3 separate regions of the Homo sapiens genome follow, and regions 1 and 3 are each linked to region 2. The links come from fine-mapping of genetic effects on gene expression. A gene starts in region 2. Each other region holds a variant in brackets. All regions are shown on one strand. Distances are between the middles of the regions. Region 1 has its middle 23 kb from the start of CRYGD. Region 2 holds the start of PLEKHM3 (pleckstrin homology domain containing M3). Region 3 overlaps PLEKHM3 (pleckstrin homology domain containing M3).

The links. PIP is the estimated chance that this variant, and not a neighbour inherited with it, causes the effect.
Region 1: its variant is the best candidate, but not a certain one, in a credible set for the expression of PLEKHM3 in skeletal muscle (GTEx, PIP 0.74).
Region 3: its variant is the best candidate, but not a certain one, in a credible set for the expression of PLEKHM3 in blood mononuclear cells (TOPMed, PIP 0.90).

The regions. Positions count from the first base shown.
Region 1 is chr2:208,100,386-208,103,149 of GRCh38, forward strand. No RefSeq gene overlaps it. Among named protein-coding and RNA genes, the nearest start is that of CRYGD, 23 kb to the right of the region's middle. The variant T/A (reference allele first, on the strand shown) is at 1,557.
Region 2 is chr2:208,024,355-208,027,118 of GRCh38, forward strand. PLEKHM3 (pleckstrin homology domain containing M3) reads right to left here and starts at 1,173. Exons shown (of 8, transcript NM_001080475.3): 1 at 1,035-1,173.
Region 3 is chr2:207,824,813-207,827,576 of GRCh38, forward strand. PLEKHM3 (pleckstrin homology domain containing M3) reads right to left here. Exons shown (of 8, transcript NM_001080475.3): 8 at 1-2,764. Among named protein-coding and RNA genes, the nearest start is that of FZD5, 56 kb to the left of the region's middle. The variant C/T (reference allele first, on the strand shown) is at 1,756.

The sequences.
Region 1 (2,764 bases), 76 kb after region 2:
ATAAGCACAAGAATGTTCTCTTCATAACCTTCCCTGTCCCTATTTGTCAGGGTTTCATTTTCTTATACTTGGTCACTCTAGTTTGATTCTGACAACTTTCTTTTTCTTTTCTTTTTTTTTTTTTTTTTTTGAGACTGAGTTTTGCTCTTGTCACCCAGGTTGGAGTGCAATAGTGTGATCTCGGCTCACTGCAACCTCTGCCTCCTGGGTTCAAGTGATTCTCCTGTCTCAGCCTCCCGAGTGGCCGGGACTACAGGCATGCACCACCAGGCCCGGCTACATTTTTTTTTGTATTTTTAGTAGAGACGGGGTTTCACCATGTTGGCCAGGCTGGTCTTAAACTCCTGACCTCCCGTGATTCACCCGCCTCAGCCTCCCAAAGTACTGAGACTACAGGTGTGAGCCACTGCATCCGGCTGATTCTGACAACTTTCACAAGGCAGAAAGACAAACATCACTTAAGGGAAATATTCGAAGCAACCTGGAGGTGCATAGCTTGGGTGTTATTTTAATTTTTTTTCTTTGCGGTTTTTTTGCGTTTTTTTTTTTTTTTTTTTTTTTTTTTTTTGGAGAGATGGGGTTTCGCCATGTTGTCCAGGTTGGTCTGGAACTCCTGGGCTCAAGTGATCTGGCTGTCTTGTCCTCCCAAAGTGCTAGGATTACAGGTGTGAGACACTGTGCCCAGCCAGGTGTTATTTTTAGAGTCAAGTTGGTGGCTTTCAAATGCAGAAATGGGCAGTAGAGGAATAACACTGCACACTCTCCATTATCTCTGAATACAATCAGATTGATTTGAGATAGCTTAAGATGAGGGGGATGAGGATAGCTTTATAGGTCTGTAGACACTTAGAGAGAGAAGGAAGAACAGTGGAAGTCAGCCAAACAATGTTTGGAATAGGTATCCATTTTTTTTTTAAATAAAAGAGATTAAGATTTCTGTAAAAGAAAAACTATTCATGAATAATGGTAAGAAAAAAATGTACAGGATATTAAACAGTTCGTTGAGAGAAACCACAGAGATTGAGCTTGAAGATGAAGTGGAGGAAATGTTTGAACACGGATGTGGGGTCTGTTTTATTCATGAACTCAATGTTTCATAAATTACATGTGGGCCTGTCAGACGTTGAGAAATGGAGGAAGAAGACATAGAGATCTTTTATTTTTTTGTTTATTTATTTTTTTGAGATGGAGTCTCACTCTGTCACCCAGGCTGGAGTGCAGTGGAACAATCTCGGCTCACTGCAGCCTCACTTCCCAGTTCAAGCAATTTTCCTGCCTCAGCCTCCAAAGTAGCTGAGACTACAGGCACGAGTCACCATGCCTGGTTAATTTTTTGTATTTTTAGTAGAGACGGGGTTTCGCTATGTTGGTCAGGCTGGTCTAGAACTCCTGACCTCAGGTGATCCTCCCGCCTTGGCGTCCCAAAATGCTGGGATTACAGGTGTGAGCCACTTCTCCCAGCCGACACAGAGCTCTTTTAAAAAGCACAGTGTAGATGCTGGATTGTCCATTCAAAAAGGCCACACCCACTGGGGCTAACTCAAGACCAATTGGCA[T/A]GCCTCTCTTCACTATCTCTTAGGAAATGCTTAGGATGTGTCACAAAGATCTCAAACAATTTATATTTGCTTAATAACCACTGGCTGAATTATAAGATTAACCTGCATATATACTGCATAGCTGAGCATATTTTAAAAGTGCAGAATAATCTCTATTTGTGAGGCTTTTAAATCATACTTGCCTTCCTTCTGGCCAGCACAGGGTGGAGCTCTTATCCAGACTAAATAAAAGCATTTTCTAAATGGAAGGGATGGAAGCTACTTTAAACAGTTGGCACTTAGGAATTTTTATCCATTTAGTCTCTGTGTGGCACAGAAGGCTTCCAACTCTTTGCTTAAAAAAAGAAAAAGAAATAGTAGAGTCACAAATCAAAAATAAAGGAAGATGTGAGAAGCAGAGTACAAAGAAAAAGGAGATTCACGAATCATGAATGGAAACACTTGTTAATAATAAATTCCACTGATGGTGAATTTAAGCACAGCTGAGTTGTGTAGACCTCATAGTCTCATGATCTTGTTCCTAAGCAAGGTAAATGTCTCCCGGGTGTTTAGATGGTTCAGTGGCCTAATCAACAGAAAGTTCAGTTTGGAATGGGTCATAGCCCCCTCGTTACCATCACTGGGTCTCTGTGGCTCTCTCTGCTGGGGCCATCTGTCCACGCCACGTTCACTGCCTGACTCTGTCACCAGGCCAGGTCCTGGCCCAGGAAAGAATATTTGCAATCCATAGTTGCTCTGCCTGTGGATGGTGGTTAGTTTGATTTGGAAAGAAGCAATAAGTCCCATCTTGGTCCTGGATCCAAATCTTGTTTTCCAATAAAGCTTTATCATTATTAAATATTAGGGATATTTGGATATCCAAAATAAATAAGTAAAATAGTATACCTAAGTAAAATGTAAATCAGAGGAGAGAAATTATTTGAAAATTGTGTAATTATTTTCAGAATTAAGGTCTCGGCCAAGGTGGGCAGATAACGAGGTCAGGAGTTCGAGACCAGCAGCCTGGCCAACATAGTGAAACCTCGTCTCTACTAAAAATACAAAAAATTAGCCAGGCGTGCTGGCAGGTGCCTGTAGTCCCAGCTACTTGGGAGGCTGAGGCAGGAGAATCGCTTGAACCCAGGAGGCGGAGATTGCGGTGAGCCGAGGTCGCACCACTTTACTCCAGCCTGGGCAACAAGAGTGAAACTCCGTCTCAAAAAAAAAAA
Region 2 (2,764 bases):
TAAAAATATTCATTGTAAAGAAAAACTCATCAGGAATTAGTATCATTTCTTCTATGTATATCTATCTATTGTAGGTGCAATTTAACCTAATATTCATCTCCTGTCTAAAAGACTATGTGACCAAGGTTACAAATGTCTACTGATATTTTTAGAGACTAGATATATAGCCCAGCTTTTGTTAAGGCATTTTCTTGAAGTCAGTCAGTCAAAAACTGCCTTGTATTTTAAGTATGCCAATTATAATTTACATGTAGTATTTTATAATAAAATACTTTATAAATACAAATCACAACTCACTACGATTACTTAAAATATAGAGAAAAAAATTCAGCTGTTTCTCTCTGGTCCCTTCCAAGGAAGAAAAAAGAAGAGAGAAATAAACTTCTAAATAAGTTTACAACAGCATGGCTCAATCTCAGTTTAACCTGGTAAATTCAAATTTGTCTTGCTTTGCAAGGTATACATCCAGACCAGTCTCAATTTGTCATCCAAATATATATCTCAGTAGTAATTTATTTTTGTTTAAGGGATGAGTGTGAGATTTTCTTATCTTGATTTTTTAGCTTAATAATTCTTTCCTACAAGACCAAACCATGCTTGTCATCAGTCATGTGGTGTCATTTACTATACATTAAAAACGGACAGAGTCGACAGAAAGAACAATCGTTTTCTGGAAGCCCCAGCCTGATGTAGGTTAAAAGCTCTGCTGGGGTTTGGTTTTATAATCCCCAGGCGGGGATGGCAGGGATACTAATAACGCACTCAACAAGATCACCTACTATTTCAACTACTTTCTCCTCCTATTACATACCTGATTCACAAAAATAAGCAGACAATGCATCATGTAATCTCCCCTCACCCATTAGCCATTGCAGTGTGGTACAATCTCCAGCACGTAATAAAAACCTGAGCATGCAAGAAACAGCAAAATCACTGCTATCCCTGGGAGCTGCTCGGATATTTACAATGCAGTCGTCCCCACCCCATCCCCCAAACTGGCCGGCCAGGCAGCACAGAAGCAGACGGATGCTCACCTGGGCCCCGGCTGCTACTCTCCATTCACCTGCGGGGCCTTCAGTCCGCTCCTGGAGGGGCTTGACTCCCGCAGCCTGCCGCCCGCCTCACGGTGACAGCCCGCCCGGGCGCTGACCATCCCGGCCCGGCTCTGTTTACAAGCGGCTTCTCGCGGTCCCACTCTGAAATGCTTCCGCCGGCGGCCCGGGCAGCCAGAGCCGGACACACAAGGTTCCAGGCCGCGAGGACGAGTCTTTCCTGCCCGAGGGACCCGGCAGCTAGGCAAGGCCTGACCGCACCCGCCAGGCCTCCTTATTTCTTTGCTTTCTTATATACAGTTCCTCTTGTACACATTGTGAAAGCAATGGCGTGTGTCGTGGAGTCTCCTCACTGCTCCACCCAACGCCAAAATGGGTGTTTGCGATTGGAAAATGTCACTTAGAACATGTCAGGATCGGGCTGGTTTTTAGCAGCTCCCTTGTCTAAGGGAATTAATTACTCAAATAAGTTCTTTCCAAAAGTGGGACTATTCTGGAGATTGCTTCTCATTTCCGGTTTTGGGGCTGCAGTGAAAATCCGTTTTCACTGTCCTTTCCTACGCAGGTTGAAAAGGGGTGGTTTTGAGGTGAGGTCTTCACCCCCACTTGCGGATTCCCAGCAAAATAGGGTGTGCGTGTGTGTGCACGCGGGCAGGACTGCCTGGTAAGACCGCCCACATCCCACCTGCAGTGACTGTGGTCGCTTTGCAGGGATATGCTGGTCTGATTGGACAGACCTTCCTTGCAGTTTCCTGTCTGTTTTCCATCATAGCACACTTCTTAGCCATTTTCTCACTTTATAAGTACACACTTATTTATCAGTTTTATTGGTTTTCCCACGCTCACCCATCTCACCTATAAACTCCCTGAGGGCAGGCACTATTTCAGTTTCACTCACCACCATCTAGTAGGCACCTAGCACAGGCCCAATGTATATATATCTGAATAAATGAATGAACAAAGGAATGATAAAAAAAAAAAAAGGTCAAAGGGGTCAGGGATGAAACAGAAATCTAAAACTCTGATTCCTCTTCCCACCTTCCCACCCTCCAGAAGATTAATAAGCAAATCTTTAAGCTTTGAGTTAAGAAAAAATTTCCTTTGGTTGATATTCAAAGTTTAAATAAGCTTTCTTTAAACCCTGCAATTTGAGGTACTTTTTTTTCTGTTTTGCTAGAGACAGGATCTCACTCTGTGCCCCGGCCAGAGTGCAGTCGCACGATCATAGCTCACTGCAGCCCTGAACTCCTGGGTTCAAGGGATCCCCCCAACTCAGCCTCCTGAGTAGCTAGGACTACAGGCACGCATCACCACAACGTGGCTAACTTCTTTTTTCTTTCTTTCTCTTTTTTTTTTTTTTGTAAAGGCAAGGTCTCCCTGTGTTGCCCAGGATGATCCTGAACTCCTGGCCTCAGGCAATCCTTCTTCCTTGCCTTCCAAAGTGCTGGGATTACAGGTGTGAGCCACCTCACCTGGCCAGAGGTACATTTTTTGTTTTGTTTTGTTTTAATTACCAAAAGAGAATATTTGCAGTATTCTCTTTTGCCTCAGGACTTTGTACATGTGATTCCCTCTGATGAGAGTTCTCACTCCTGGCCCATCCTCTTACTTAGGCTGGCTAATTTCTCTTTGCTCTTTAAGAAGCAGGTAACAGGTGCTTGGTCTCTCAAGTCACTTGCTTGGTCTTCTTCCAAGTGTTCTTTTCTTCTTTT
Region 3 (2,764 bases), 200 kb before region 2:
CCGGAAGGAAGTCACGGCATAGTCCCTTTTCAGGAGTCTGAGGGATACCACTTGTGTTGCAAACCACAGATCCCAAGTATTAGACGTATTCCCTTCTTGGTGGAGGCCTACTCTAGAAGAATCAAAAACCGATGACCCTCTCAGCGAATCCGATGTTAAAGCTCCTAACTAGGTGACCCTTTAGCACTACAGACGTAAAAATGACTCTAATGCACTCCCTAGAAAAGGCAGTGAAGCAAAGGGGGCTGCTGAGAGTTTACATGGTTTTCATATAAAGAGGCTTTTAACTTTGGAAAAAGCGGGCCTGGAAAGAACACTACCCCCATTCCAGTTGACGGCTTTTTAAGTACTTTGTGGCCTTCCTGCCGCGGTGCAAAATGAGGTCTATTTTAGGAACTGGCTTCTTTACTGCGGGGTTAGATGCCAACATTTCACCAGGGTTGGACGATCTCACACATGAGTTTCTGGCACTTTTAGGAGGGATTTCCTCAAGTGATACACTAGGGAATGAGCCTTTCAGCAAAAAGCGGTTCCCCGGAGTCAGTTGCCAGCTCCAGGAGATTAATTGGCCATTTTTTCATATGTTTTATGTGCAAGATATTTAATATGGGATGAAAAATGGAACACGAGGAAAAGCAGGTATTAGTTTGGTCTGAAAGAGGTGGTAATCCACAGATTTGCTTTTGTTTCGACAGTTTCTAAGCAGTGGAACAATTACCTAACAGTGCACCAAGTAATTTGTTAAAGTTGAAAACAGTAAGGGCGTTCATGTGCGCCAAGGTATTCTGGGCTGAAAACAGCAATTTTGAATTTTCATGGCAGACCCAACTCCTAAGCTGGCTCCACTCTGTCCTATCAGATTTTGGTGGTGGTGGCAGAGAATGTCATAGGCCTGTGGCTGGCACCGACCAAGCTGTCAGGGTGGTACGAAAAGGAGAGGAAACAGGAGTGCTGGACATGGACCCAGCTCTGGGTAGCTGATGGTGATAACACATCGATTTTTTGTTTCCCTTTTGAAAATAAGCAGAAAATGATGTGGGTGGAAAGTCCTCCTTAGGAGTTCACAGGGACTGCTCGTATTTAGCAGGGCCCTCTAAATGGGGACTGGTGAAAACAAAGATGTTTTGAACGGGGATCCAGAATTTCGCCCTTGACTCTCGGCAGGTATGACCCTGGGTGCCTGTGAGCTAGGAGAGGAAATTCTGTATGCAGGGCAAACATGTTACAAGGGGAGGAGATGGCACTGCACTTCAGGTCTCCAAATGCAGTGTGCTAGGAATGGCCTCGCTGACAGTTGGAATCACGGATACATTAATTACAGCGAAGGCAAAAGTAAGCTACAGTGACAGGGAGCTGGGGGCGGAGGGAGAAGGCACTTTGCCATGGGAGCACATCTGTTTTATAATAAGCAGGTCTATAATTCTCTTGTGAAAGATCATGTTCTGCTATCTTCTCTGAGGCTGGAAAATATAAATACTGTATTTTACCAAGAGGAGGAGGAAAGGAGATGATCAAATTTGTTTGCCTGTTGCCAAGTGTTTGAGATTTTCCACCCTTTTTCTTTTGTGTGCAACATTCTCTTTAACTAGAGTGGGGGAAAAGTCAACCTGCTTTTCTAAGGGTAAAAGGCACCGTCAGGCGTCTCATGAATAGGGCCCTGGCCTTTTAACAAGTTTTCAAGCCTTGGTTGCGGCTACTGTATAGTCAGAAAATAAATGCATGTATGGTGTTGAGCTATTAAGGTGAAATGTGTGG[C/T]CTGGGGCCAAAGGAACTGGTGTGGGTTGAGAGGTAAAATGCTTACATCTAACTGCACAAAAGTCAGTCTGAAATGTCACATCTCTAGATGGATGGAAGTATCATGAGTTGGGGTCTTGGGGAAGCGGCGTGTGGGGGAAAGGAGCAATGGGGTTGAATGTACCAAGTATGTTGTGAGCCACTGATCCTAATAGCAGCAAAACTACTAAACCATGAAGACATAGAAGGCATCTGCTCAGCGCGAAAGCTACAGAATCTTCTCATAAAGTCTACTGAGAACTGTTCCATTATAAACATATTTTTCTTGCTCTAGGGAGAGTTAAGGGGAAGGAATGGGAGCTGTCAGGGTCCCAGGGCTGTCCTACCTGCCGTTTTGGTCACAGTGACTGCCACGTGCTCTTCCAAGGGCACTGCAGCTGGAGAACACTACCTGCCAAATAGCAAAGCAGATCTCTTTCTTACTCCTATTATTTATTTTAGCACTCTTTGTTTTACTTCAAGGTGGCAATTATATATGTGTGTGTATATATATATATTTATTTAAATAATATTAGATCTAATTCATTAATTATACTTGTAAGTTTGTATTTTCTTAATAGTCCAAAGTTGGTATTTTGAAGTTCCACATTACTCTGATTTTTTAAACAAAAAAATGAGAAAGCAAGAATGGTCACATTGACAAAGGTCGAAATGAAAGTGCAGGAAGAACAACGAGAAATAAAGCACTTAAAATGAATAGGTAGGAACTGCCTCCACAGGATTCTGAGAAAAGAAACTAAAACGACCCTCTTTGGGAATATACTTACTAGATAGCCTTATCTACCAGTCTACACGACGATGTCTTTAACAACCACCCCAGGACATTTCCTCCGGCCAGCATCATGAAAAAAATCATAAATATCAACCATGGGCACCCGTTGAAAACTGTTAAGAAAGCCATGTGTACAGCCTGGAAAACACGGTGGAGCGTCACATCATTAGGTGGGTGATGGGATTAGTACCGAAAAAC